6 separate regions of the Homo sapiens genome follow, and all the other regions are reported to be linked to region 2. Evidence: microRNA targets listed by miRTarBase, many of them from high-throughput screens and not tested one by one. Region 2 holds a microRNA gene; each other region holds the end of a gene's coding sequence. Distances are from middle to middle.
What was found. Region 2 holds the annotated microRNA hsa-miR-3672 (AUGAGACUCAUGUAAAACAUCUU, at 1,890-1,912, shown strand). A microRNA usually pairs through its seed, bases 2 to 8, with sites in the 3' UTR of a target mRNA and lowers its output. Matches are read on the target gene's strand: a 7mer-m8 pairs with bases 2 to 8, a 7mer-A1 pairs with bases 2 to 7 and ends in A, and an 8mer does both.

Region 1 (5,075 bases), not on the chromosome of region 2:
GATCCTCCCACCTCAGCCTCTCCAGTAGCTGGTACTACAGGCAGTCACCACCACACCCAGCTAATTTTGTTTTTTTTTTTTTTTAAGAGATGGGGTCACACTATGTTGTCCAGGTTGATCTCAAACTCCTGGCCTCAATTGATCCTCCCGCCTTGGCCTCCCAAAGTGTTGGGATCACAGGAACCATCACTCCCGGCCTCCTTCCCAAATCTTTTTTTTTTTTTTGGAGGCGGAGTCTTGCTTTGTCACCCAGGCTGGAGTGCAGTGGTGCAATTTTAGCTCACCGCAAGCTCCACCTCCCAGGTTCAAGTGATTCTCCCACCTCAGCCTCCCAAGCTGGGACTAAAGGCACACGTGCCACCATGCCCGGCTAATTTTTGTATCTCTGGTAGAGGCGGGGTTTCGCCATGTTGGCTGGGCTGGTCTTGAACTCCTGACCTCAGGTGATTTGCCCACCTTAGCCCCACAAAGTGCTGGGATTACAGGCGTGAGCCACTGCACCTGGCTCTTCCAAAATCTTGACTCTGGACCTCTGATCTTCAAATCCAAAGGGACCCACTCAACCTCTCTTCTCTAGCCCCTCCCTCTGCATGGCGTGCCTTCCCCACCTCTCCTTCCAACCTGACAGACTTCTCTCCCTCCTTTGCCTTGTCTACAGCTCCGGCAGCTGTTGAAGAGGAGCCGTGTGGCGCCGCCAGGCCTGTCCTCTTAGGACTCAAACCCAGACCCTGGACTGATTTTCCAGTCCCCACCGTCCTGCGGGACAGCCAGCGTATGCTAATGTTGCAAACCCATGATAATGTATGTGGAATATCCTGCCATTGGGGTTTTACATTAAAACCCCAGAATGGCTGCAGAGGGGTGAACAGGCCCCAATATTTGGGGTGCTGTGATACCCCTCTTCTACCCACAAGGAGCCCTCTTGATGATTTCTGTGAAATCGAGGCCCCTTGATTGTTTCTGTGAAACACCCTGCACCCCTAGTCCTTTCCCCACTGAGATCTTTCGGGTTCTCTCCCCTAACTCAGCTCTTCGTTCCCAGAAACCCAGATGTAATCCCCCTACGTGGTGCTTGGGGCATCCCGATACCATCTCAGTAAATCTCCTACAATGGCCTCCTCACCCTCCCCGGGACCCACACCCTTCAGGTCCTCACCCTGAGACAGGAGGGACCCTCTGAGATCAGGGACCCTTAGGTCTCACTGCTCTCTGATTCAGAGCTCAGCTGGGCCCCCAGTTCCAGACCCCAGCATTCCCGGTCACTCCCTCCCTAATCTGAGCATCACTCAAGCTCTTTATTAAACTCAATTTGGGCCAGATTTGGTGGCTCATGCCTGTAATCCTAACACTCTGGGAGGCCGAGGCGGGCGGATCACTTGAGGTGAGGAGTTTGAGACCAGCCTGGCCAACATGGTGAAACCCTGTCTCCACTAAAAATACAAAAACAATTGGCTGGACATGGTGGCATGCGCCTGTAGTCCCAGCTACTTGGGAGGCTGAGGCAGAAGAATTGATTGAACCCAGGAGGCGGAGGTTGCAGTGAGCCGAGATTGTGCCACTGCACTCCAGCCTAGGTGACAAAGAGAGACTCTGTCTCAAAAAAAAAAAAAAAAAAAAATTTAAACTCAATTTGGACTAGAACCACTGTTGTCTGATCTCTGGGGGCACTGGTGCAGGGGAGTGGCTGTGATGCCCGCTGAGGGGTCATATTGGGATGAATGTGCCTGAGGGGGGAGGATGTAGCAGCCACCATGGGTGCCAAGTCCATATCCTGTCACCCTCACCCTGGCGACACAAGAGGGACTGGCCTTTAGGAGGCCAAGGTGTGAGGATCACTTGAGGCCAGGAGTTTGAGACCAGCCTGGGTGTCAGCCCCAGAATATTTGCCTTTGGGCAATCTCAAACCACTGGTGCGGCTCTGCCCCAGGTATGAGCATGGCAAGTGTTGAAAGCCAGGGGGTTCGTGTCCACTTCCCACTCCAGCAGCCCTCAGCCAGTTACTGATAGGAGATAGTCCCCCACCTGTCTGTTGGGCTAACTTGGAAGTGCATGGCCTATGCGGGCTCCAGAGTTCCCCAGCAGATGAATCCCCAGTTCCCCACAGTGGTCTGGGCTTGATAAAATACCCTTTATTGGCTGCTCTTTCTTCTCTGTGTCTCTTCCTGTCTCCCCTACCAATGTTCTCCATCCCTTCCAAATGAACTTTCCCTCCAATCCTTCCCTCCATAGCTGCTTTTGGAGAAACCCAAACTAAGAATTCCACAAAACCCCATTCTCAGCCAGGCGCAGTGACTCACACTTAAAATTGCAGCACTTTGTGAGGCCGAGGCGAGCAGATCACCTGAGGTCAGGAGTTTGAGACCAGCCTGGCCAACATGGCAAAAACCCATCTCTACTAAAAATACAAAAATTAGCCAGGCGTGGTGGCGTGCGCCTGTAATCCCAGCTACTCAGAAGGCTGAAGCATGAGACTCGCTTGAACCTGGGAGGCAGAGGTTGCAGTGAGCTGAGATTGCGCCACTGCACTCCAACCTGGGCGACAGAGCAAGACTCTGTCTCAAAAAAAGATACAAAAAAACCCCCAAGGCTGGGCGCAGTGGCTTATGCCTATAATCCCTGCACTTTGGGAGGCGGAGGCGGGTGGACTACCTGAGGTCGGGAGTTTGAGACCAGCCTGGCCAACATGATGAAACCTTGTCTCTACTAAAAATACAAAAAAATTGGCCAGGCGCAGTGACTCACACCTGTAATCCCAGCATTTTGGGAGGCCGAGGCGGGCGGATCATGCGGTCAGGAGATTGAGACCATCCTGGCTAACACGGTGAAACCCTATCTCTACTAAAAATACAAACCAAAAAAAAAAAAAATTAGCTAGGCATGGTGGCGGGCACCTGTTTTCCCACCTACTTGGGAGGCTAAAGCAGGAAAATTCCTTAAATCCAGGAGGCGGAACTTCCATTAACCTAAAATCCCACCACTTTTCTCCACCCTGGGCAACAAAACAAAATTCCGTCTCAAAAAAAAAAAAAAACCCAAACCCCATTCTCATACCCGCTCCACAGCCTCTGCTCTGGCCTCTGCAATATAATCACACAAAGAGCCCCCATCCCAGAAAGCCCTTGGACCCATCACAGCCCCCATAGCTAGGAACCTTTCATGGACCACAGACCGAATGTACATGTTAGCACATTCCGGGGCTCCAGCCAATGTCTCCACCCCAAAACTTAAGGCTTAAACCAACACCCTTTTAATTATTTCTTTTCTTTTTTCTTTTTTGAGAAGGAGTCTCAGTCTCACCAGATTGGAGTGCAGTGGCGCGATCTCTGCTCACTGCAACCTCCGCCTTCCAGGTTCAAGCGACTCTCCTGCCTCTGCCTCCCAAGTAGCTGGGATTACAGGCACCCACCACCACGTCTAGCTAATTTTTGTATTTGTTTAGTAGAGATTGGGGTTCCAGCATGTTGGCCAGGCTTGTCTCGAACTCCTGACCTCAAGTGATCCACCCACCTCGGCCTACCAAAGTGCTGGGATTACAGGTGTGAGCTACCGCGCCCAGCCCCTCTTAATTGTTTCTGACTGAAATCTACGCCGGGTTCAGCTGGCTGTTCTGCTGTCTCCCTTTGGTTCCTCATGTGGCTGCAATCAACCTGAGGCCCAACTGGCCTGGAAATCCACAACACCTTCACTCACATGCCTGATAGCTCAGCTGAGATAATGGAGCTTCCAGGAGTGGCCCAAGAGTCTTTCCATGCAGTCCAGGAGGGCAGGTGGATCTCTTAACTTCAGGTGGTGGCTCAGTGGTTCCAAGAAAGAGAGATCCAAGGAGACAAGTCCCTGCTTGTATCATACTTGTTGACATGTCATTGATCCCAGATCAGTGTGGGAGGCATTACACAAGGGTCTCAATATTGGGAGACAGAGTTATCTGGGGACTGGGCGAGGTGCCTCACTCCTGTAATCCCAGCAATTTGGGAGGCCAAGGAGGGCGGATTACTTGAGGTCAGGAGTTGGAGACCAGCCTGGTCAACATGGTGAAACCCTGTCTCTACTAAAAATACAAAAATTAGCTGGGCATGGTGGCGGGTGCCTGTAGTCCCAGCTACTTTGGAGGCTGAGGCAGGAGGATCACTTGAGGCCAGGAGTTTGATGCCGCAGTGAACCATGATTGCAGCACTGCACTCCAGCGTGGGAGGCAGCAAGACACTGTCTCTAAAGTAAGTAAATAAATAATAATAATAAAATAAAAAATACAGAAGAACTTAATTGGGATCATCTTATAGTCAATTGTGTGACATAGTTTATATTTTGCCTTTTTTTTCCTTTTGTGGTACCTAAAATAATGCTATTTTTTATCACTGATGGCATCTGAGGTTTTGTTGACATATAAGATGTATATCTCAATTTGTATTGTTATGGAGTGCATGTTTGTGTCCCTCTAAAATTCATTTGTTGAAACCATAAGCCCCAGTGGGGTAGTATTTGAAGATGGGCCTTTGGGAGGTAGTTAGGTCATGAGGGTGGAGCCCTCATGAATGGGACTAATGTCCTTGTTAGAAGAGATGGGAGAGTCCGGGCGTGGTGGCTCATGCCTGTAATCCCAGCACTTTGGGAGGCCGAGGCGGGTGGATCATCTGAGGTCTGGAGTTCGAGACCAGCCTGACCAACATGGAGAAACCCCGTCTCTACTAAAAAATACATATTAGCCAGGCATGGTGGTGCATGCCTGTAATCCCAGCTACTCAGGAGGCTGAGGCAGGAGAATCACTTGAACCTGGGAGGTGGAGATTGCGGTGACCCGAGATCATGCCATTGCACTCCATCCTGGGCAACAAGAGTGAAACTCCATCTCAAAAAAAAAAAAAAAAGAAGGAGACAGGAGAGAGCTTGCTTCTCTGCTCTCTACTCTCTGCCATATGAAGATGCAGTAAGAGGATGGCCATCTTGGGCAGGGCACACTGGCTCACACCTGTAATCCCAGCATTTTGGGAGGCCAGGATGGGAGGATAGCTTGAGCTCAGGAGTTTGAGAACAGCGTGGGCAGCATGGTGAAATCCTGTCTCTACTCAAAAAAAACA
Region 2 (5,075 bases):
GTGTTGGTAACCAGAATATATAAGAAACTCAAATTCTGTAGAAAAAAAGGATATTAATTTGATCAAAAATGTGCAAGAAAATTTTAATAGACATTTCTCAAAAGGAGACATACAAATGCAAACAGGCATATGAAAATGTGCTCAACATCATTGATTATCAGAGAAATGCACATTGAAACTCCCATATGATATCATCTCACCTCAATTAAAATGGCTTATATCCAAAAGTCAGCCACTAACAAATGCTGGCGAGGATGTGGAGAAAAGGGAAGACTCCCACTCTGTTGGTGAGAATGTAAAATAGTACAACTACTATAGAGAACATTTTGGAGGATCCAACAATCCCACTGTGGAGCATATACCCAAAGAAAGGAAATAAGTATCTGCACTCCCATGTTTGTTGAAACACTGTTCCCAATAGCCAAGATTTGGAAGCAACTTAAGCGTCCATCAACAGATTAATGGATAAAGAAAATGTTGTACCTGTACACAATGGAGTATTATTTAGTCATTAAAAAGATCAAAATGGATGGAACTGGAGATCTTTATGTTAAGTGAAATGAGCCAGGCACAGAGAGACAAACATCACATGTTCTAATTTATTTGTGGGGTCTAAAAATCAAAACAATTGAACTCATGGACATAGAGAGTAGAAGGATGGTTGCCAGAAGCTGGGAAGGGTAGTAGCAGAGGACCAGGAAGGGAATGTGGGGATGGTTAATGGGTACAAAAACATAGAAAGAATGGGTACAAAAACATAGAAAGAACATAAGATCTACATTTGACAGTACAACAGGGTTACTATACTCAATAATAACTTAATTATACATTTAAAAATAACAAAAAGGTGCAATTGGATTGTAAAACAAAGGATAAGTGCTTGAGGGGATGGATTCCTTATTCTCCATGATGTGATTGGTACGCATTGCATGCCTATATCAGAACATCTTGTGTACCTCACAAATATATATACCTACTATGTACCCACAATAATTTATTTTAAAAATTAAAAATTATTAGCACAATAAATAAATTGAAGTGAAATATATATATGATATATTTTCAATCATCTCAAATTTGTTAGACTTGTTTTTTGGCCTTACATATTCTCTGTCATGGAATATTTTCTTTATACGCTTAAAAAGACTACATGTTCTGATGCTGTTGAATAGAATGTTCTGTATATGTCTGTTAGGTCCATTTGGTCTATAGTGTTGTTCAAGCCACTTGTTTTCTTACTCATTTTCTCTTTGGATAATCTGTCCATTGTTGAACATCGGGTATTGAAGTGGACTGTTATTTTATTGCTGTCTATTTCTCCCTTCAGTTCTGTTAATAAATACCTTATATATTATATTTAGGTGCTCCAATATTGCATACATAGATGTATTTACATTTGTTACATCTTGTTGATGAATTTACCCCTTTATCATGATATAATGACTTTCTTTGTCTATTGTGACAGTTTTTGACTTAAAGTCTGGTTTTTTTCTGATGTAAGTAAAATAAATGTAGCCAACTAAGCTCTCTTTTAGTTACTATTTGCATGGAATATCTTTTTCCATTTCTTCACTTTCATCCTCTCTGTGTTCTTAAAAGTAAAGTGAGTCTTCTTACTTAGCATATAGTTGGATTCTAATTTTAAAATCGATTTAGTCACTCTGTTTTTTTATTGGTAAATTTAATTCATTTATATTTAAATAACTTATTAATAGGTTAAGTGTTTATTATTGCCATTTTGTTAATTGCTTTCTGACATTTTGTCATTCCTCTATGTCTTTCTTCCTCTATTTCTGTGTACCTTTGTGATTTATTTCTGTAATGGTATGCATTGATTTCTTTTTTTATCTTTTGTGTATTTACTACACATTTTTTTCTTTGTGATTACCATGAGACTCATGTAAAACATCTTAGACTATTACAAGATGTTTTATGAGTCTCATGATAATCACAAAGATTACTATTAAAGCTGATAACTTTGAACATGTTAAAACAACCTTACACTTCAACTTTTTCTTCCCCCCATTTTATGTTATTGATGCCACACTTCATATCATTTATATTGTGTATACTAAAAAGTTATTATAGTTATTTTCATACCTTTTTCTTTTGACTTTTGTGCTAGAGTCAAACATGATTTATGTACCACATCATAACGTAAGAGTTTTTTTTTTTTTTTTTAACGGAGTCAGGCTGGAGTGCAGTGGCGCTGTCTTGGCTCACTGCAACCTCTGCCTCCTGGTTTCAAGCGATTCTCCTACCTCAGCCTCCCGAGTAGCGGGGACTACAGGTGTGGACCACCATGCCTGGCTAATTTTTGTGTTTTTAATAGAGATGGGGTTTCACTATGTTGGCCAGGCTGGTCTCGAACTCCTGATCTCGTGATCTGCCTGCCTTGGCCTCCCAAAGTGCTGGGTTTACAGGCGTGAGCCACTGCGCCTGGCCACATTAGAGTATTCTTAATTTGACTATGTTTGTTTTTTGGGAGTTTTCTACTTTTCTCTCTTTTTGTTGTTAGTGTCCTTTCTTTTCAACTTGCAGGCCTTTCTTTAGCATTTCTTGTAAGGCAGGTCTAGGGGTGTTTAATCCCCCTAGCTTTTCTTTGTCTGGGACAGTCTTTATCTCTACTGCATATCTGAAGGGCAACTTTGCCAGATAAAGAACTACTGATTAGCAGTTTTATTATTTTATCACTTTGTATATGTCATCCTACTCTTTTAGCCTGCAGGACTTCTGCTGCAAAATCCTCTGATACTCCAGTGGAAGTTGGTTTGTATGTGACAAGCCTGTTTTCTTTTGCTGCTCTCAAAATTCTCTCTTTGTCTTTGAATTTTGAGAATGTGCTTATTATGTATCTTGAAGAGGTGTCTTTATGTTTAATATATTTGGGGCTCTTTACCTTCGTGGATCTAGATGTTCACTTCCTTCAGATATGAGAATTTTTCTGTCATTATTTACTTAAAGAAATTTTCTGCCCCTCTTGTCTCTATTCTGTTGGGCCTCAAATAATGTGTATATTGGTCCATCTGATTGTGTCTCATAAATTCTGTATACTTTCTTCATAATTTTTTATTCTTATTTCCTTTTGTTGTTTTGACTGAGTAATTTTGAATAAGCTGTCTTTGAACTCACTGATTCTTTTTTTGTTTGAGTCTGCTGAGGAAGACATCTGTGGAATATATCAGTTCAGTCATTGAATCGTTGCGTTCTTTAGCTCCAGGATTTCTGCTTGGTTATTTTTTAATGTTTTTTTTTTTTTTTCTCTTTGTCGAACTTGTTGTTCTGCTCATATAATGTTTTCCTGATTTTGTTTGGTTGTTTGTCTATCTTGTACTTCGTAGTTTTTGTTTGTTTTTGTTTTTTGTTTTTTTGAGACAGGGTCTCATTCTGTTACCCAGGCTTGAGCGCAGTGGCATGAACACAGCTCACTTCAGCCTCAACCTCTGGAGCTCAAGTGATCCTCCTGCCTCAGCCTTCCAAGTAGCTGGGACAAGAAGCTGGGACTATAGGCATGTACCACAATGCCTGGATATATTTATATTTTTTTGAGATGGAGGCTTGCTCTGTCCCCCAGGCTGGAGTGCAGTGGTGTGATCTTAACTCACTGCAACCTCTGCCTCCCAGATTCAAGCAATTTTCCTGCCTCAGCCTCCCGAGTAGCTGGGATTACAGGCGCCCACCTCCACGACCAGCTAATTTTTGTGTTTTTAGTAGAGACAGCATTTCACCATGTTGGCCAGGCTGGTCTCAAACTCCTGGCCTCAAGTGATCTGCCCACCTCGGCCTCCCAAATTGCTGGTATTACAGGCATGAGCCACCTAAGTTTTAAATATTTTGTAGAGACAGTCTCACCACGTTGCCCAGGCTGGCCTTGGACTCCTGGGCTGAGGCAATCTTCCTGCATTGACCTCTCAAAGTGTTGGGTTTACAGGCGTGAGCCATCGTGCCTGGCCTCCCTGAACTTTTAAAGATCATTATTTAAAATTATCAGGCGTTTCATAGATCTCTATTTTTAAGGTCAGCTACTGGTACTTTATTCTGTTCCTTGGGTGGTGTCATATTTCTTTGATTATTCATGATCCTTGTAGTTTTGTGTTGGTATCTGCACATTTGAAAAAGTAGGCACCTCTTTCAGTCTTTACAGACTGGGTTTGGCAGGGAAGCTGACTTTACCAGTCAGCTTGGCTAGAGGGTCTTGTTGGGTCAGCAGATGGAATCCGTGTTCGGACTTGGGTCTGGAGTTCTTGGGCAGGCTGGCCTTGTTTTAGGGCCTGGTGCCTAGGTTCACTATAGCTGGCCTTGTGTACGGATCTGCAGGGCCAGGCCTTGAGCTCAAGCCTGTACAGGTAGGCCTGGTGTCCTGGTTCATAGGGTTGAGCCTGGCTCTGGGTACATGGGGTTCAACCTTGCAGGGAGGTAGAACTTGAGCCTGAGTTGGGGAGGGTCAGCTTTGTGTGGGGGTGTGCTTATGTTTTGGGTCCACAGGAGCCAGTCTGACACCAGAGTATGTCTGGAGTCTGAGACTGTGGGGTCTGGTTTGGACCTGGGTCATAGGGGCTGGCCTGAAGTCTGGGTCCACAGATGCTGGCCTAGAGCCTTGGGCCACAGGAACTTGCCTTGTGTTGAGGTTGGCCTAGGGCCTGGGTTCACAGGTGCCAGTCTGTGTCCATGAGGGCCTGCTGGGAGCCTGATGCTGTCTGGGCTGGCTCAACACTGGGTGGGCCTGAAGCCTTGTTCCACAGAGATGGGCCCGGAGCCTGTGGCTGTGGTAACTAGCTTGGCATTGGGGTGGCCCTAGAGCCTAGGTCCATGGGTGCTTGCCTGGTGCTGGGGTCTATAGATAAGGTGAATGCTTATCCACTGTCATTCTTCCATGTGGAGGATGTGTCTGTCCATGCTACACTGTGAGGGCTTTGGGGAGGGGTGGTGTGGTTATTTGTGTAACTGTCTCACACACCACATACCCTTTTCAATGCATTTTATTTTATTTCATTGCTCCACCCAGTTGCTGCAATCACTTACATAGATTCCTTAACTGTTGTGAAGGTACTTTCATGAGTGGGTAATTTTTCAAA
Region 3 (5,074 bases), not on the chromosome of region 2:
GGAAGTGGAGGTTGCAGTGAGCTCGGAGGGCGCCACAGCACTCCAGCCTGAGCAACAGAGCGATACTCCATCTCAAAAACAAAAGGGAGAGATGACAAATTGTATTCGGTTTTGTAAGTTCAGAGTGCATATAACTTTTTCTACCAAGCATATCATACTTTGAATTATAGCCTTTATTCTGCATACCTGGCTATTCACAACCCATTATTCATGGTGAGCTTGAAGGCCTTGTTCAAAAAGCAGCTCCTTCCACAGCTGTATTGTAGTCTGATCTTGTAAATGCACTAGACATAAGTCCTGCCGAAGGATAATCTTGCCATGATTGTTTTTAGCAAAGTAAAACACCAGGCATGCCTGCATCCTACTGGCTCTGACAGACCTCTACTTTGTCTTGTGTATTTTAGGCTTTAAAGGAGATAGATGAAGTTGGGGACCTATTGCAGCTGAAGTATTCCCGTCATCGGTTGGTACCTCTACTGGACAGGCCCTTTGACGAGACGACGTATGAAGAAACAGAAGACTGAGCCTTTTTGGTGCTCCCTCAGAGGAACTCTCCCTCACCCAGGACAGCCTGTGGCCTTTGTGAGCCAGTTCCAGGAACCACACTTCTGTGGCCATCTCACGTGAAAGACATTGCCTCAGCTACTGAAGGTGGCCACCTCCACTCTAAATGACATTTTGTAAATAGTAAAAAACTGCTTCTAATCCTTCCTTTGCTAAATCTCACCTTTAAAAACGAAGGTGACTCACTTTGCTTTTTCAGTCCATTAAAAAAACATTTTATTTTGCAACCATTCTACTTGTGAAATCACGCTGACCCTAGCCTGTCTCTGGCTAACCACACAGGCCATTCCCCTCTCCCAGCACCTTGCAGACTTGGGCCCATCAAGAGCTACTGCTGGCCCTGGCTCCGCAGCCTGGATACTTACCTGGCCCTCCTCCCTAGGGAGCAAGTGCCTTCCACTTACTTCCCATCCAGGTCTCAGAGGTCTCAAGGCCAACCTTGGAATCCTTATTTAACCATTCAAGTAATCAACGGAAGTTTTCACCCTTTAATCTTAAGTTTAGCCTTTTAAGAAAAACAGTAAGCGATGACTGCTGAAAGGCTCATTGTGTAATCTCCCAAGGGTTTGGTCTTATTCCATTTTCTTCTGGTCACCAGATGATTTCTTCCTTTACCATCAAATACTTCTTCATAATGGTCACAGTCTGAGGATGTGCGCAAATTCTGGTTCTTCCCAAGCTCTAACCGTAACACGTCCCACCCCCTTTTTAAAGCACTTACTGTTTTCAGAGCACCCATATCCCACCCTGGTGAGAAGGCCACTCTCACATCTGAGTGTTGGGTACAAAGCTGCTCCGTAGAGTGATGTGCACTCCTGGTGGGTGAGGGGCAGGGGCAGTGGCAGTGTGCAAAGAATTGATTACTCCTTGCAGAGCCTGTGGCTTGCATTTCCTACTGCTTTCTACGTTTGAAAATTATGACAGTCTCTGGCTAGGTCTGGGTCCAGATTAGGATTTAAACTGATAAAGGAAACTGTTGGTAAATCCTCTGCTCAGAAAGCATTTATCATGTTCCTATTTAAGGATTAGGTTTATTAATTTAGGCCTCTTAGAAGCTAACCCACTTAAATATTACTCTTCTGAATGCTAGTTCTCTTTTATTCTTGATGTCCTAAGTCAATTGAATCTGGCATCTGGGGCTAGGGTCTGCCTGTCTACATATTTTTTATTTTTTTCTGAGAAATTCTGAACACATAGATCTCTTTCCTAAACTGACATTTTCTATTTTGACTGTTTTCATACTATAACCAGGTAAAGGGACTTCTTTCAGAGAGCTTTATACTGCCTGACCAAAGAACAAATCTGAAAATCACCATTTTAAAGTTATTTTTTCAGTTGAACCAAAGTTTAAGTGAAGAGGACTTTTGGCATATTATACCCAGGATCAGTTTGTCTTTTTGTATCCATCAAGTATTACAGGAGAAGGATTGGGAACAGAATGGAAAAACAGTGTATGAAAGTCATGTTACAGGCCGAGTGCGGTGGCTCACACCTGTAATCCTAGCACTTTGGGAGGCTGAGGCAGGTGGCTCACTTGAGGTCAGGAATTCAAGACCAGCCTGGCCAACATGGTGAAACCCCGTCTCTACTAAAAAGACAAAAAATTAGCTGGGCGTGGTGGCGGGCACCTATAATCCCACCTACTTGGTAGGCTGAGGCAGGAGAATCGCTTGAACCCAGGAGGCGGAGGTTGCAGTGAGACGAGATTGTGCCACTGCACTCTAGCCTGGGTGACAGAGCAAAACTGTGTCTCAAAAAAAAAAGTCATGTTACACATTTAAGTTTTTGAAATTGCTCCTTTTATCGGTAAAGATTCTCAATCCAAATTCTCCTGGGTGTGTTGTCATCAGCTGTGATATGTTTGTGCACATTACGTATAGCAGAGGATGTAAGCAATATTATTGTTTGTGAAGTTTTGTTTTTAATGTCTTGAGTATGAGTTATGTTTAGTCACTGTCAGCATCTGAGAACTTTAATAAGCCCTTGAGATATTCCAAAGTTTTATTTTACTTTTTTAAAGAACAGAAAAAGATGAATGAAAGAACCAAGGAGAGATGCAGAGACTATATTTAGCATGTATAGGTTAAAGTAAGAAGGAGGTTGTGGTAACTAAATAGGAGTCCTATAAAATCAAATACATTGTCAACCTTTTCTGCACATCTAGTTTCCTACCATAGAATCCCACTGGAATACCACATAGCTTTTGCACTGCAGTTACTATTTACTAATGTAAACGTAGGGTTTGTAAAAGTCACAAACTTATAAGCAATGAACTTACCTGCTAGTCTTTTTATTTTGGCTTGCATGAAGTCACTGCAAATTCAAATGTCAGTACCGGCATTTAAAATATATCTATATCACTTTGTTGGTACAAAGTTATTTCAAGATAAGTGTAATTTTGTTACAAGTTTATTTTGAAGAGACAAATCTCCTGTGATCTATGCAGGACCTCTGTACTTTCTAAAGAACAAAATGTTATGTAGACATTATACATGGTTGGTTGTCTCTTCTTGAAACTGTAATGTAAATCTAGGGTCCAGTCATATCCTAGGTATCATCATTTATCCAAGTACTTGGAGGAATACAAGTATATATAAATACAGTCATTGAGAATAAGTCGATTTGAGGCATACAAGAGTAGTTTCTTACACAGTTTAACACGGCCTGATTCAAGACTCTGATAGGATTCAAACAGATACCGGTTAACCATGACTACCAAAACTGATCATCTGAGTCGATTGATAGAGGTGTGACTAGTCCTTAGCACTTTTTCTCATTCCTCTTTTTATTCAGCATTGCTGTTACCTATTTCAGGTTTATAAGACCTCTTTCAGCAGATCACATCAGAAGCCAGGAAATGCATAGCTAGGAGATGTCAAAAGCCCATATGAGGAGTGGACCAAGCAGCAGTGGCGGTTTCTCCTCGCATCTTTTTTTTTTTAAGCTTTAACTTAGCAGGGGCATGGACTTTATAGCACTTTTTCAACTTTTTGCTTTGCTTTGGATAAGAAATCCTTACCTTTAAAAAAAGCTTCTAGTCTCCATAACCCCCAAAGTACTGCTTATTTGTTTGAAGAATCCAGCCATCGTAGTGCTTTAGTCACTATCGTAAACATTCATGATAGGGCAAGGATTTTAAAACAGGATTCTTGCTTCTGTAGTCATCAAGGTGAACAGAAGCATCCTACACAACCACTAAGGGCTCTATGTTTGTGTCATGCCTCTTCAAACACCAAGGAGTTGAACATGCTTCCAGTGATTTGTCTCCGTAATGCCTTCTTCCTTTATTTGGCCTTTCTTTCTTTCTGTACCTTCAAGTTCTTGATTTTTAAAATTCCAACTCTAGAGAAAACCAATATATGGTGGTGCTGGGCTTTGAAGATAGCATATCAGACGCCTTGGTTCTGTTTGTACACTTAGCCTTACATTTCAGGAGGAGGCTTTTCATTAGGGGCTTAAGCTAGCTCCTTTGGCTTTTAAAAAAAATTTTTTTTCAAATTTCTTCATTACCTAAGGGAGCCTGCATCTAAATTTCTCAACTAGTTCAGCCTAGCTGAATTTTCTAGTGTGTTATACACTTTGCTTCCTTCTTATTGGTGAAAACCAGGGGGATGAGTGGCTTCCATGGAGAGATTTCCTGATTTCTCAGGGAGGAAAAAAGTGATGACATTTACCACTACTTTTATGTTTTTCCCCTTTTTCCAAATTGATAAGGATTTCTGGTTCCTAGTGATCCGGGATTGGGCAACAGTGCAGAACTGCCAGTCATGCCGTAGGCCGTGAAGAAAGAATGTGAGTAACTGTTGTTTTGCAAGGATTTGTAGGGTTATGGGCAGTTGTTGTTTGAAGCATTGCTATGACCTAATTCCCAAGGTATCTTTCCTCTCTTGGTGTTCTAGGTAAGCCAATGAGCTTTAATCTCTACTTGCTATAACCGTGTGCTTAGAAAAAGAGGTGAGAGTAGTGGTTTTCCTTCAAACTGTCCACATTCATGAAGATTATGAATTGTTAGGACAGCCAGGGCAAGATAGACCCTGTCTCTACAAAAATTTTTTTCTAAATTAACCGGGCATGGTGGTGCCTGCCTGTAGTCCCACCTGTGTGGGAGAATCACTTGAGCCTGGGAGGTCAAGGCTGCAGTGAGCCATGATTGCACCCCTGCACTCCAGCCTGGGTGACAGAGTGAGACCCTGGCTCAATAAGAGGGGGAAAAAAAATTGTTAGGAGCTGGGTGCGGATGCAGCCTGCAATCCCAGCTACTTGAGAGGCTGAGGCCGGAGGATTGCTTAAACCCAAGAATTTGAGCGTAGCCTGGGCAACACAGCAAGACCCCATCTAAGAAAAAAATGTTTTTTAAATCAGCTTAGCCCAAAGGGGTTGTGAATGGGGAGGTATAAAAAGCAAAGATTATTTTTTGGCTACTAAGCCAAGAACTTACAGGGATTTTTTTTTTCAGTCCCAGAACCTACAGATACCCTGCTACTTGCTTCACGTGGATGCTCAGTGCCCA
Region 4 (5,067 bases), not on the chromosome of region 2:
TGGGCGACAAGAGCAAGACTCTATCTCAAAAAAATTAAAAAAAAAAAAAATTAAAAATTAAAAACTATGTAGGGACCATGTGGGATTCATACATGGACTGGCACCCTGTCCCTGTTTTGGGAATGTGAGTAGGACAGTGGTTCTCTACCCTCAAAATGACTGTTGGTCTGGTCTGTTCATGTTCAGAAGGTAGCCATAGGCTTCATCTTAGAGCTGGAACCCTTTGAATGAGTGGTAGGCTCCCTTTCCTGTTTGTATCTTTGGGTTCACATAAAGTATAGACCTACTTTAGAACTCAAATTGGTGGCGGAACTAGCTCCTTAAAACGCAGCTGGTTAGCACATTGCCTCATCCTAACAGGCCTCTGCTTCCCCTATGTCCCCTTCGCTTATATTAGCTGCCCTGTGCCCATTCTATCATGTCATTTCCTTTCAGCCTCCACCTCCTGGATGCCCTCCCAATGCTGCTCAGCTTGCAGTCATGCAGGGAGCCAACGTCCTCGTAACTCAGCGGAAGGGGAACTTCTTCATGGGTGGTTCAGATGGTGGCTACACCATCTGGTGAGGAACCAAGGCCACCTCTGTGCCGGGAAAGACATCACATACCTTCAGCACTTCTCACAATGTAACTGCTTTAGTCATATTAACCTGAAGTTGCAGTTTAGACACATGTTGTTGGGGTGTCTTTCTGGTGCCCAAACTTTCAGGCACTTTTCAAATTTAATAAGGAACCATGTAATGGTAGCAGTACCTCCCTAAAGCATTTTGAGGTAGGGGAGGTATCCATTCATAAAATGAATGTGGGTGAAGCCGCCCTAAGGATTTTCCTTTAATTTCTCTGGAGTAATACTGTACCATACTGGTCTTTGCTTTTAGTAATAAAACATCAAATTAGGTTTGGAGGGAACTTTGATCTTCCTAAGAATTAAAGTTGCCAAATTATTCTGATTGGTCTTTAATCTCCTTTAAGTCTTTGATATATATTACTTGTTATAAATGGAACGCATTAGTTGTCTGCCTTTTCCTTTCCATCCCTTGCCCCACCCATCCCATCTCCAACCCTAGTCTTCCATTTCCTCCCGCCAGTCTCCATTGAATCAATGGTGCAGGACAGAAAGCCAGTCAGACTAATTTCCTTCTTTCCTCGCACTTCTCCCCACTCGTCATCTTTTAACTAGTGTTTCACAAGGATCCTCTGAAACCCTCTCTGTGCCCCAAGTACAGATGCCATTACTTCTGCTTTCGTATCTCCTCAGGCAAAAGTGGAGGGTGCCTTATGGGCCCTCCTCATAGGTTGTCTCTGCATACACGAACCTAACCCAAATTTGCTTTGGTGCCAGAAAAACTGAGCTATGTTTGAACAAAGATGTCGTGCAAACTGTACTGTGAACAACAGTTGGTTTAAAATATGAGGGGCAAGGAGGAGGATGCATTTCAAAAGCTTGATTGATGTGTTCAGAGCTAAATTAAGAGGAGTTTTCAGATCAAAAACTGGTTACCATTTTTTGTCAGAGTGTCTGATGCGGCCACTCATTCGGCTCCCCAGAATTCCTAGACTGGGTTAATAGGGTCATATTGTGAATGTCTCACTACAAAATGACTTGAGTCCAGTGAAATCTCATTAGGGTTTAAGAATATTTCAGGGATCCTTAATGTTTTGATTTTTGTTTTCTGAAATTGGATTTTATTTTATTTTATCTTATAATTTCAGTTCATCTAAATTGTGTGTTCTGTACATGTGATGTTTGACTGTACCATTGACTGTTATGGAAGTTCAGCGTTGTATGTCTCTCTCTACACTGTGGTGCACTTAACTTGTGGAATTTTTATACTAAAAATGTAGAATAAAGACTATTTTGAAGATTTGAATAAAGTGATGAAGTTGCATTACACCTCACTGCAAGGATTCTTTACTTAGCTTGTTTTTAGATTTCTTCTATATATATTTTATTTATATCCCATCTAGAATTCAGCTAGGTGCTGCTGCTGCTCTGTTTCCTTTGATGACGCTTTGAAATAAAGGCAGGAGTACAAGCCTAAGACTTGATCATTTCATGAATTCCATTCCAGATGTTCAACTTTTCATCATTTTACTCCAACCTCTTACAAATTTTGGAATTTCGGACCTAAACTTAGAAATGAGGGAACTATTGATTCTCCTAACTTGCTCTAAAGTTTGGCTTGAAGAAAAGGTTCTGGTATAGCAATTTGTATACGTTGAGGATGACCTTTAGTTTCTCCAATGTTCTATGTGGAGAAATACTGAAAACTCATAGAATCTAGGTTGCCAAGATAGATTCCTCAGCTCTTTTATTTATTTTTTGAGACAGGGTCTCCCTCTGTCACCCGGGCTGGAGTGCAGTGGCAGTGTCTGCTCACTGCAACCTCCACCTCCCGGGTTCAAGTGATTCTCCTGTCTCAGCCTCCTGAGTAGCTGGGATTACAGGCACCTGCTACAACACCTGGTTCATTTCTGTACTTTTAGTAGAGACGGCTTCACTGCGTTGGCCACGCTGGTCTCAAACTCCTGACCTCAAGTGATCTGTCTGCCTCAGCCTCCCAAAGTATTGGGATAACAGGCAGTGAGTCACTGCACCCAGCCAGATTCCTCAGCTCTTGATCTTAACTTGGTTGGGTTTGAGCTTGGACAACAGAGGCAATACATTAAGACTTCAAAGGAGATCTAGCTTTAATTCCAAAGTGAACAATATCTGATGAGCTAATAATTTATACCAAAATGTGCCTTTTAAACACAACTTATCTTGAGACTAAAATCCAAGAAGCTTCTTGGCTTGATTCTGAGGATACACTGGGAAAGGTGGTAGGTTGATTTTTTCTGGTTCCTTCTGTATATATGTAGAAGGGATTCTGGGAAATTCTGGCCCTTGCCAGGATGGAGGCTTGAACCAACTCATCTCCCAGGGTACTTTTTTTTTTTTTTTTTTTTTTGAGACGGAGTCTCACTCTGTTGCCCAGGCTGGAGTATAGTGGTGCAATCTCAGCTCACTGCAAGCTCCGCCTCCTGGGTTCAAGCCATTCTCCTGCCTCAGCCTCCCAAGCAGCTGGGACTATGGGCGCCCGCCACCACGCCCAGCTATTTTTTTTATATATTTTTAGTAGAGACGGGGTTTCACCGTGTTAGCCAGGATGGTCTCGATCTCCTAACCTTGTGATCCGCCTGCCTCGGCCTCCCAAAGTGCTGGGATCACAGGCGTGAGCCACCGAACCCGGCCCTCCCAGGGTATGTTTCTAATGATGTTCCCCTGGAACAAGCTTTCCTGCACCATCTTTGTCTCAAATCCCTGAGATAGTTCTGCAAACTTCTAGAACTTTCCTAGGGTTCTTATTGCTTGGAAGAGAACATATGTAAAGGCGTTAAATAGGGAAAAGAAAATGTCAAAAATGTTTAAGCAAAAATAAGTCAAAATGTAGTTACTTCTTGCACATGAGAATCTGATTTCTGTAGCAATGAAAATTTTTAATTTGAATAAAAATCACGTAAGCATGAGGTTGTTGGGGAACACGGAAAGGAAGGGCTCAGATTAGGGGGTGTAGCACATTTATCAGGAGGTAAGATCTCCATAGTCTCCTACCCCTCCTGGCCTGGCCTTTTACTGTGGTATCCAGCCTCTGGGAAGACCTTGTATGGACAGTATCTCCACTGGGGCTATCACTAGGTGACCAGGTAGGGGACAGAGTAGAGCAGCCAATGACCTTAACTCAAAATCTTTTCTCTCCCTTCAACCTGTGAAAAAAGATGACTGGGCACATACTCAGATGTCCCCTGGCATAGCCACATCTTGTTGGCCAGTCACAAACACCAGCTCTAGTAAGAGGGCCTGGTTAAAGATATCATAAACAGCTTTCTCCATGTCCCTGGTCCCTGGAGTCAGTGATGTCGGCATTTGGGACTGCGACCTGGCTGGAGCTTGGATTTGCCCACATCAATCAATGCTTCTCCCTGGCTTCAGAGAAAACTTTCCCATAATAAGCAGTCAACGTGTTAGCGATGGAGCCAGGAATAAGCTCCTTGGGGCCTGGGAGTCATTAGATGAAATATTCCTCTTTCTCGCTGCCCTTGGCCAAGTCACTCTCCATCTGGACGATGGCACTGGGCTCACCTTCTGTAGGTTCATAGGTGACGTAGCTGCCTTTGTTCTTGTACAGGTAAAAGAAGATCAAGATCACGACCGAGAGCAGGGTGAGGAAGACAACGGTGATAACAACTTGGAAAGGAGAGGGAAAATGTAGAGATGTTTCAGGATTGAGGATGTCTCAGTAGTTCCTGGAGTCATCTGATTTAGTCACTGTTTTCGTAAAGATCCTCTTGTTTTCATTAACTAGTGTCCACTTCCATCCAAACCCATGTTCCCCCACCAACCCCAATTTCCATGGCACATAATAGCTGGAGTCTCCTGGTGCTTAAGCTAAGGACACATGCTTTTGATTTCTGACAAAACTGAACTGCCTCCCAAACCAGTTCCTGATTCTTAAAGAAACGGGAAGGAGGGAACAGGAAATGGCTTATCCTAACAGGAAGTGGTTTATCTGATCCTCCCCCTCTTCCTCACCCACTCAACCAACCACATATATCCTCGTCCCTACCCACGTACTCAAGTGTAACGTCCGTATGCATATCTATTTGCGGCCACCTCCCAACCTGTCATTTACTGGTAGTGCCTCTGACAGAAGCCTCCGAGTCTTTTATGGCTGTGTGTGTGTGTGTGTGTGTGTGTGTGTGTGTGTAATATAACTTACAAGCCAGAGTGAGCCCATTAATGGATTTGGTCAGGCTCCCTCTGGAGAGAGATGCCCTTGATCCAGAAGGTCCCTTGGAGTTGGCTCAGAGTCTATTACCTGCAATGAGTGCTGTGCTGGCTCCATCTTCTGGGGACAGGGCCTCAGTGGGCTGTAAAATTGGGGTGGTCATCAGTTCTTCTGGAAAATGTAGAAAAGTGGAAAAGGAAATGGAGTGAATTCTTTTGTTTGAAAGCATATGTTTGGCCTTCAAATTTCACCACCCCACCTTCTTCCCTATTCAAAAGTTTATCATTTAACTCCTAGAGTA
Region 5 (5,075 bases), 98 Mb from region 2:
GCCCATGAAAGCAGCCGGGAGAGGGGGTATACTCTGCAAAGCCACAGGGACAGAGCTGCCCAAGACCATGGGAACCCACCTCTCGCATCAGCGTGACCTGGATGTGAGACCTGGAGTCAAATGAGATCATTTTGGAGCTTTAAGATTTGACTGCCCAGCTGGATTTCACGCTTGCATGGGCCTGTAGCTCTTTTGTTTTAAGCAATTTCTCTCATTTGGAATGGGCAGATTTACCCAAGGCCTGTACCTCCATTATGTCTGGGAAGTAACTAAATTGCTTTTGATTTTATAGGCTCATAGGTGGAAGGGACTTGCCTTGTCTCAGATGAAACTTTGAACTGTGGACTTTTGAGTTAATGCTGAAATGAGTTAAGACTTTGAGAGACAGTTGGGAAGCCATGATTGGTTTTGAAATGTGAGGACATGAGATTTGGGAGGGGCCAGGGACAGAATTATATGGTTTGGCTGCATCCCCACCCAAATCTCATCTCGAATTGCAGCTCTCATAATTCCCACATGTCATGGGAGGGACCTGGTGGGAGGTAATTGAATCATGAGGGTGGGTCTTTCCCACACTGTTCTCATGATAGTCTCATGAGATCTGATGGTTTATAAATGAGAGTTCCCCTACACAAACTCTCTTGCCTGCTCACCATGTAAGATGCACCTTTTGTCCTCCTTCACCTTCCACCATAATTGTGAGACCTCCCCAGCCATGTGGAACTGTGAGTCCATTAAACCTCTTTTTCTTTATAAATTACCCAGTCTTGGGTATTTCTTCATAGCAGTATGAAAATGGACTAAGACAACAACCCACCAAATCTTTCTCCAGACATTGACAAAATTGGGCCTGGTAGAGAACCACTGATGTAGACTACACCAAAGACAGGAAGTTTGTAGGGATACTTTTTCTCTGCAAAACCCGCAAGATATAACTTAGAAACCCTCTATTTTTTTTTTTTCTTTGACGTGCCTTTTTGGTTACTAAGCAGTTGGTTTTGGTTGTTTTTCTTATGCTGTCTCAGGGGTTCCCCATCTCAGCACTATTGTTTTGTGCCAGATAATTCTTTGTTGTGAGGGGCTGTCCTGTAGATTGTAGGGTGTTCAGCCTCTACCCACTAGATGCTAGGAGCACCTCACCCCCTACCCATAGCTGTAACAACCAATACTGTCCACAGATATTGTCAAAGTTCCGCTGGGGAGCAAAATCACCCTTGGTTAACAGTCATTGCACTATTTCTACTTATCTTTCTCTATACACTGGTTCTTCTGTCCAGCATTATGTTGTAGAAGAAATGCATACATCTCTCATTTCCTTACTCATAGACATTGAGTGATAATTTTTCTTGTTAAGTGTTACTTACACATGATTATGGAAATATACTATCTCAAGTGGTTGAGTTGTTGCATTCTTTTCTAACAAATATAGCATTGCCCCTAAGAATAATTCTGGAAAATAACATATACTCTAACTTGCTAAACATTTATCATTTCTCCTCTTGAGTGAACAGCACTAAGCCATTTGAGCTTCTATTACAGTTCTGCTATAGATTGCCTTTGCATTAAATTTGCACACACTTCTCTATTTCACTAAATCTGAACTTGTAGAGAACCTCAAGACAAGCATATTGCCTTTAAACATAATAACTATACTAAAATTAAAAAATATAAATATTGGAATCAGGCACTGCCGGGTCAAAATATCCCTTAAGTCCTCTAAATATCACTTAATTTCTCTTTAATCAGGTTTAGGGCCCTTAGGCAAGTTAGCTCCTCTGACTTTGCTTCATCCCCTGCAAAATAGGGGTAAGATTTCCTTCCGAGTGGCGTTCTTATAAATATTAGAGATTAGGAGATAAAGCGCCAGGTATGTATCACTCAACAATGTTAACCATTGTTATTAATTTTATCCAGAGATATTAAGGTCTACATTTTAAAAAGCCTTTAAAGTCTATACTTTAAGCCTTAAATACCTATACCTAGAACATTTACTTCTTTCTTTCCCTTATTTTCTGACTTATTTGTAGTCACAGGTAAGGCATGCTGGGGAAAAAAGTTTGTTGCCTTAATTTTTCTCTTGATTTTACCAGAAATGTTAACTAATTCTAATGTTTTCATGAACACTGAATTTTAAAGTTTACTTAACATCTTTGTAGGGATTTCTTTTTGCAGGTGTGAGAAGCACCTTGCTTCTAAATAAGGCATAAGAGGTAGAATTATAGATAAAATTAGGAAGAGTTTTACTAAAATTGGTTCTTATGGCAAAAACGTCATTTGGTTTTTTTTTTGGTTTTTTTTTTTTTGAGACAGAGTTTTGCTCTTGTTGCCCAGGCTGGAGTGCAGTGGCACGATTTCAGCTCACTGCAACCTCTCCCTCCCGGGTTCAACTGATTCTCCTGCCTCAGCCTCCCGAGTAGCTGGGATTACAGGCATGCGCCACCACACCCAGCTAATTTTGTATTTGTAGTAGGGACAGGGTTTCTCCATGTTGGTCAGGCTGGTCTTGAACTCCTGACCTCAGGCGATCCGCCCGCCTCGGCCTCCCAAAGTGCTGGGATTACAGGCGTGAGCCACCGCACCCAGCCCTTATTTGATTGGTTTTAATGTTTTTCCCAGTAGATAAATTTTTCTTTCACTTTAATTTTTTCCCCGATATATGTATCTATATATATATGGTTTTGACCTTCAAATTGAATTAAAATAAAGCATGATGAAAAGAAAAGCAAAGAATAAAATGAAAACCTACCAGTTAAATTGCAAAATCAATAAAAATGCAGAATGCACTATTCTTGTCATTGAAAAGGATTGTTTTATTCAATTATACAAGGATGCAATTTCCCCTAGATTAGACAAAAAAGTGTTAATACAAGGCTGGGGTATACAGTTTTAGTTATAATGTCACCGAATTTTAGAGGTAAAAGAGACCTCTAAATTAATAAAACTGTCCCATTTTATGAGTAGAGAAATTGAGGCCTAGAGAAGGCAAGTGATTTCCTCAGAGTTTTAACCAAGGGTTAGTGACAAAATGCATACAAGGACCTGAATCCCAGTGAGTCAGACATCCTGCTCTGCTGGTGACATCATTCTGATAAAAATAGAATTGTGGAATCTTCTAAAAAATTTAGCACTTATTTTCTAATGAACTAAAACAAGTAGAGAATGATAGTGGAAATAACTTTAAGAACTGTTGTGGCACCAACTGCTCGGGGGAAAAGAGAATACTTTGACTGGATAAGCTTGAAGCTATGCTTCAATTTAGTACAACTATTTTAAAGCCAGAAAAGCACCATTGTTGTCTTCTACCAAGTGTTTTAGAGAAGACAAATGGACATGGTAGACTATAAAATTAACACAAGAACAGAAACTCAAATACCACATGTTCTCACTTATAAGTGGGAAGCAAACGATGAGAACTTATGAACGCAAAGAAGGAAACAGCAGACACTGGGGTCTAGCTGATGGGGGAGGGTGGAAGGAGGCAGAAGAGCAGAAAAGATAATTATTGGGCACTGGTCTTAATACCTGGGTGACGAAATAATATGTACAGTAAACCCCCATGACACGTGTTTCTTTAACAAACCTTCACATATACCCCCAAACCTAAAATAAAAGTATTTTTAAGAGAAATTAAACTTTAACCAACACATAACATTTACTTTCTCTTCACATAGTCTCTCACTCTCTCATTTTTGAGACTTTTTTAAAATTAAGGAACATACACAATATTGAAAGTTGATAAACCCCCATGACACGTGTTTCTTTAACAAACCTTCACATATACCCCCAAACCTAAAATAAAAGTATTTTTAAGAGAAATTAAACTTTAACCAACACGTAACATTTACTTTCTCTTCACATAGTCTCTCACTCTCTCATTTTTGAGACTTTTTTAAAATTAAGGAGCATACACAATATTGAAAGTTGATAAACCCCCATGACACGTGTTTCTTTAACAAACCTTCACAAATACCCCCAAACCTAAAATAAAAGTATTTTTAGGAGAAATTAAACTTTAACCAACACATAACATTTACCTTCTCTTCACATAGTCTCTCTCTCATTTTTGAGACTTTTTCTAAAATTAAGGAACATACACAATATTGAAAGTTGATAAACCCCCATGGCACGTGTTTCTTTAACAAACCTTCACATATACCCCCAAACCTAAAATAAAAGTATTTTTAAGAGAAATTAAACTTTAACCAACACGTAACATTCACTTTCTCTTCACACAGTCTCTCACTCTCTCATTTTTGAGACTTTTTTAAAATTAAGGAGCATACACAATATTGAAAGTTTAGCAGTATTATTTAAGAATTAGTTATGTCTTCAAATGGCTAGTATGTTTCCAATACTTCCTTACATATATTCAATACTGCATATCTTTAACATGCCTGGAATCTTCCAGTAGCCTGGTACAACTTTTCAACTTAAAAAATAAAACTCCTTGCGTCTTTGTCCAGGTTTTCTTGATCGTGTTTCTCTGTGCCTCTTTTGTTGATTTAACTTGTATTGCTCAGCCATTACTACAAGATCTTCCGGAACACTCTGATTTGCTCTGTCCAGAATTTTAATCAATTCACCGGCCATTTTCGAATCTCTCTGAGTGATGAGGGTAACTGATGTGCCAGTCTTTCCTGTCCGTCCAATGTACCCTACTCTGTGTACATATACGTCAATATTCCTTGGGAAATCATAATTATATACATGTGTGACATCATTAAGATCAAGACCTCGGGATACTATATCAGTTGTAATCAGTATCTTTATGTTTCCGCTTTTAAAGTCCTCTACTGCTCGCTCTTGATCACTCTGTTCACTGTTGCCATGTAATGATTCTGCAGATATGCCTTGGATATTGAAGTCGCTTGACAAGTCATCAGCAATATGTTTTTGGCTGACAAACATGATGACTTTGTCGTTGGGTGACATGTTCTCTACGAATTCTTGGGTGAGAGCTCGTTTTTCTTTTTCTGTGGTAACAATTATATTTTGCTTCACTGTATTTACAGCCACTAGATTCAGATTACCAACATAAACAATCATAGGATCTTTCAAATAAGAAAGTGCTAGTT
Region 6 (5,075 bases), not on the chromosome of region 2:
ACCTGGAGTCAGGAGTTCAAGACCAGCCTGGCCAACATGGCAAAACTCCATCTCCACTAAAAATACAAAAATTAGCCGGGCATAGTGGCAGGCACTTATAATCCCAGCTACTCAGGAGGCCAAGGCAGGAGAATCGCTTGAACCAGGAGGCAGAGGTTGCAGTGAGTCAAGATCACAATACAGCACTCCAGCTTGTACAACAGAGTGAGACTGCCTCAAAACAAAACAAAAACCCAAAAAACAAAAACAACAAAAAACCCTTGTGTGCCTAATGACAAGGGGATAACCCAAACCTCCAAAACGCCTGAGTCAGGCATTCAGAGTTCATTTGGAATGTTTGTTTCTAGTAGGACTCAAAATATGCCCTGATTATCACCATGAATTCTGTGGCATCTAGGCTTTGGGCATCTTGTTTCCTCATCCTACCCTACCCACCTGCTATTCTCAGTTTTCCTTATAATAGCAGAGAAAGCAGTTGTGCTATCAAAAATAATAAACATATCTATCCATTAAGTTCCTTATATAATATTCAAAGGCTGTGGTTTTGGGTGGAAGCAGAGATGTTCATGTTACACAGACTTACTCTTTTTTTTTTTTTTTTTTTTTGAGACGGAGTCTTGCTCTGTTGCCAGGCTGGAGTGCAGTGGCGTGACCTCTGCCTCCCGGGTTCAAGCGATTCCCCTGCCTCAGCCTCCCAAGTAGCTGGGATTATAGGCACGCACCACCACGCCTGGCTAATTTTTTTGTATTTTAGTAGAGACGGGGTTTCACCATGTTGGCTAAGATGGTCTCATCTCCTGACCTTGTGATCCACTTGCCTCGGCCTCCCAGAGTGCTGGGATTTCAGGTGTGAGCCACCATGCTTGGCCTAAACAGACTTAACTTTTAGACACTGACAAAACTGAAGGCATCTTTCTGACCAATCACCTACTCAGGATCCCTCCCCCAATGTTTTACCAGTATATTCTGATAAAAGTTCTAGAGTCCGTGAAAGAAACTAAGGATAAAAGAAAGTCCGTGTCAAGTTGTACATTATACAGATGCCTATAAATTTTATTCATTTCCTAAGCTTACATCAAATTCACAACTTTCTTTTTTTTTTGAGACAGTCTCGCTCTGCCACCCAGGCTGGAGTGCAGTGGCACGGTCTCAGTTCACTGCAACCTCCACCTCCTGGGTTCAAGTGATTTTCCTGCCTCAGCCTCCTGAGTAGCTGGGACTACAGGAGCATGCCACCACGGCCAGCTAGTTTTTGTATTTTTAGTAGAAACGGGGTTTCACCATCTTGGCCAGGCTGGTCTTGAACTCCTGACCTTGTGATCCACGTGCCTCAGCCTCTCAAAGTGCTGGGATTACAGGCGTGAACCACCGCGCCTGGCCCACAAGTAACTATTGTTGCTTTTTCTAATTTTCTAGGATTTTATTTTTTTAAATTTCTTTTTAGTAGAGATGGGGGGTCGGGTCTTGCTATTTTGCCCAGGCTGGAGTAGTGGCACGATCTTGGCTCACTGCAACTCTGCCTCCTGGGTTCAAACAATACTCCTGCCTCAGCCTGCTAAGTAGCTGGGATTACAGGCATAAGCCATCACACCCAGCCTTGAGGATTTTCTTATACTGTGTTTGAATCCACATGACTGATAATATGCTTAATGTTTGAGAAATTATAACCTTGCAATTGAGGTTAATGATCTACTAACTACCTTTGTGTTGATCAGATTGTGTACAATCTGGAAAAGACAACGACTAATCCAAAGAAATGAAACTACAGAATTTCAGGCATTGTAATTATACCTGTAAGAAGTTAACCTAGCAGAGAAAACGTTTAACTATCCCTCCCATCACCATCACCATTCATTCTATTTGACAAACAGGAGGCATCCAAATATTTGCTAGGGGAAAGTCATCCCTGATCATCCATAAATCACACTGTAACAATCTCTTCTCAACAAAGCCTGCAGTAACTAAACCTCAGAAGTTCACTGTTATAAACTTTTTCTTTCAACTTTACAGGGGCTGTTTAGAAATATATGGCCAAATCTGTAACCCGGAAACAGCAAAAAACTTCTTAGCAAAGGATCACTAAGTACCCTTTGGATGTACTCTTCCAACCAGACAAGAGTGCCAGAAACTTGGCAAGCAATTCATCCTGTGGAAGTTGCAAATACTGGCTGACCTGCTTAAAAAGATTCTAGAGTTGGCCGGAGGCAGAACATGTCAACTCTTTGCTGGATTCTATTTCATCTGCTGTTGATACTGATCTCAATGCACCAAGGAAAGGAAAGATGAGCCTCCTGTCTTCCAGCAACAACCCTCACATATGCACTGAGTGAAGGATGAATGTATGGACACATCTGGGAGTATTTTAAAGAATGTATCTTGCCTTGTGTTGACCCAAACCAAAAACATTTTTGAGGGGCACATGTGGGGTCAAAAAGATAGCCAATTTCCATTACATGGGTTTACAATTTCCATTCTTTTGTGCCACGAGTGTTAGAATTTAAATGAATACTTTTACAAAGTCTACTTTTTGTTCAAGGATATGCTGACCCATATAGTTTACTCTTAAAATTGTGTCAAGGTATTTCTCACTATACTCTAAAACAACTAGACTTGAAAAGAAACCATTTGAGATTTGAATCTAATGGTTAACGCTATTCAGATTTTCCCAAAGATCTTACCTCATGAAAGTAGTTCTGGGTCAGAATGATCTACTCAGTTAAAAAACAACAACAACAAAAAACTAAGCGATTGGGAAAAAACAGGAATTTTATCTGGTTATTGCATCTGGTGATAGAGGCCTTCAAAGCCTATTATTTCTAACCTAAGTAAAGGCCCCAGTGAAAAACATACTGGGGAAATAAAACCTCTGAGAAAAGGTTCAAGCACCTTTTCCAAATTTAAATCTTGCCTTAAATTCTCTCTACCACACTGCCTTTGACACTCTTGGAAGTCCATGTAGTTCTCTACAGATAGACTTCAAAGAAACGTTACCTTATCAAAGACTAATCTGTGCCACCTCTGATTCAGTGTTTTATGTCTTTCACTTTCCCTGGGAAGGAGTAAAGTTCTTTTCTACAGCTCTGGGACTATTACATTTAATTCTGCTCTTGATAGTCAAAGACCATGGACAACAACTGTCATCTGAAGGACTCTTCTAGAAGCCAGAGACTGGTGTTTGATGGATGTTTTATACTAAATAAAACCCATCAGCATGGGGTTATGTAGAAAAGCAATTTATTCCATTTTAAGCACTTACACAGTTAGTCATGGAGAGTAACAGGCCTGCTGGTGAAACAGGTCACCCAAAATGGAGATGGCATCAAACTAGTGGTCAAGGACTAACTCCTAAAAAAAAAAAGCAACTCTTATCAAGGATTAATTTAATTTTTAAAACAAATACAAGTTATTGATTCACTCTTCTCAACTTGACAGTCTACCTGTGGTATAACTGTCAGGTAAAAACATACATCTTTACAACTTGGTGGTCCCAAGTTAAAAAAAAAAAAAAAAAAACCAACAACAAAAAAAAAAACACCATTTCACAGACAGGAAATAAACAACATGAAAACAGCTCAAGAAATACACTAACGAGCAAAAATATATGAATATATGGGGAAAGAGGAACGTGTTGTTTTGACTTAACTGAAGAAACCAAGAGGAAACTGGTCTACGTATGAAAATGTGCATCCTGGAAAGTCAGGTGTCAAGATTTTCGAGTAGGAATCTATATGACTTGAATCTCCCCCTATTTCCTGAATAAAAGTGACATCTTTCAGTATTTATACTTCATGGCTCAGACACCTACCTCATTTGGCTCTATTCCTTACTCACTCTAGCCTTTACTTAAATGAGTCTGAAAAACTTGGGGATATAGCATAAGAAGAAAAATAATCACACATAATATTCCCCTTTCTGTAGCTACTTTAGACCTGGGTTACTAGAAAATTCCTGAAGAAAATTTCAACGTTAAGTCTGTGGCTTTGTTGAATCAAGCCCCCCTATTAATATTTAGAAAACACCCACGGTTTGGGCTAATAGCATTATCGGTGGTACCTATTATATAGAGGGATAGCTGAATAAAGTCTGTCTCAAAACCAGTGTTAAATCACTCTCAGGGTTGAGAAGAAAAAAGGGGAGTCTAAAATCACAACAAGTAAAGACATATCTAGGACCCTTGTCCTTCTGGATCCACGCTTCCTTCAGGGTCTTCATCATTATAAATGTTCTCTGCCTGCCCAAAAACAAGAAAAAGAATTTAAACATGAAGACTTCTTCTAAAACTCAAGGTTTCAACAACAGATTAGGCCAGGAAGCCAGAGAGTAAATACTTTATAGCTTTTGGGCCACACAATCTGTGTTACAACTATTCAACTCTTGGATGAAAGTATCCGGAGACAACCTATAATGGGTAATGAAATATTAATTAGCATGATCATGTTCCAATAAAAATAAGCAGCTGATCCCCAGACGCCTGATTAGGACATTCCCACAAAACTGCAGTGTGGATACTATTTGTCTTGATAGCCAACATTCTTGAGTTCTTTAACCAGGCATTATTATTTTTCTTTCCTTTTGAGATGGAGCCTTGCTCTGTCTCCCAGGCTGGAGTGCAGTGGCACCATCTCGGCTCACTGCAACCTATGCCTCCCAGGTTCAAGCAATTCTCCTGCCTCAGCCTCCAGAGTAGCTAGGATTACAGGCACATGCCACTACGCCTGGCTAATTTTTGTATTTTTAATAGAGATGGGGTTTCACCATGTTGGCCAGGCTGGTCTCGAACTCCTGATCTCAGGTGATCTGCCCACCTCGGCCTCTCAAAGTGCTAGGATTATAGGAGTAAGCCATTGTGCCCAGCCTAACCAGACATTATTAATAATAGCCAAAAAGTAAAAACAACCCAAATATCCATCAACTACTAAAATGGATACACGGTATATCCAATCCATATGATGGAATATTATTTGGCATAAAAAAGCCAGTCAGGCCAGGTGTGGTGGCTCATACCTGTAATCCCAGCACTTGGGAGGCTGAGGCAGACAGATCACTTGAGGTCATGAGTTTGAGACTAGCCTGAC

Region 1: the mRNA of NFKBID is a reported target of hsa-miR-3672. The part of its 3' UTR that is shown has no 7-base or 8-base seed match.
Region 3: the mRNA of SPTLC2 is a reported target of hsa-miR-3672. Seed matches in the 3' UTR shown: 7mer-A1 at 989-995 and 7mer-A1 at 2,313-2,319.
Region 4: the mRNA of SMAGP is a reported target of hsa-miR-3672. Seed matches in the 3' UTR shown: 7mer-A1 at 2,947-2,953 and 8mer at 2,762-2,769.
Region 5: miRTarBase lists DDX53 as a target of hsa-miR-3672. Seed matches in the 3' UTR shown: 8mer at 4,254-4,261, 8mer at 4,064-4,071, 8mer at 3,879-3,886 and 8mer at 3,690-3,697.
Region 6: the mRNA of RBBP4 is a reported target of hsa-miR-3672. Seed matches in the 3' UTR shown: 7mer-A1 at 1,101-1,107, 7mer-A1 at 605-611 and 7mer-m8 at 206-212.

The regions. Positions count from the first base shown.
Region 1 is chr19:35,884,196-35,889,270 of GRCh38, reverse strand. It overlaps NFKBID (NFKB inhibitor delta), which reads left to right. Exons shown (of 12, transcript NM_139239.5): 12 at 659-1,319. The coding sequence ends at 712. Among named protein-coding and RNA genes, the nearest start is that of NFKBID, 14 kb to the left of the region's middle.
Region 2 is chrX:121,369,097-121,374,171 of GRCh38, forward strand. It overlaps MIR3672 (microRNA 3672), which reads left to right and starts at 1,876; the gene lies at 1,876-1,957.
Region 3 is chr14:77,507,734-77,512,807 of GRCh38, reverse strand. It overlaps SPTLC2 (serine palmitoyltransferase long chain base subunit 2), which reads left to right. Exons shown (of 12, transcript NM_004863.4): 12 at 405-5,074. The coding sequence ends at 524. Among named protein-coding and RNA genes, the nearest start is that of ISM2, 11 kb to the right of the region's middle.
Region 4 is chr12:51,241,895-51,246,961 of GRCh38, forward strand. SMAGP (small cell adhesion glycoprotein) reads right to left here. Exons shown (of 4, transcript NM_001031628.2): 3 at 4,857-4,937; 4 at 2,664-4,225. The coding sequence ends at 4,047. DAZAP2 (DAZ associated protein 2) reads left to right here. Exons shown (of 4, transcript NM_014764.4): 4 at 436-2,039. The coding sequence ends at 564. Among named protein-coding and RNA genes, the nearest start is that of DAZAP2, 5.6 kb to the left of the region's middle.
Region 5 is chrX:23,001,304-23,006,378 of GRCh38, reverse strand. DDX53 (DEAD-box helicase 53) reads right to left here. Exons shown (of 1, transcript NM_182699.4): 1 at 2,790-5,075. The coding sequence ends at 4,426. All of the region lies in intron 3 of PTCHD1-AS (PTCHD1 and PHEX antisense RNA), which reads left to right. Among named protein-coding and RNA genes, the nearest start is that of DDX53, 3.9 kb to the right of the region's middle.
Region 6 is chr1:32,678,796-32,683,870 of GRCh38, reverse strand. It overlaps RBBP4 (RB binding protein 4, chromatin remodeling factor), which reads right to left. Exons shown (of 12, transcript NM_005610.3): 12 at 1-4,231. The coding sequence ends at 4,166. It overlaps SYNC (syncoilin, intermediate filament protein), which reads left to right. Exons shown (of 5, transcript NM_030786.3): 5 at 2,011-3,965. The coding sequence ends at 2,021. Among named protein-coding and RNA genes, the nearest start is that of SYNC, 21 kb to the left of the region's middle.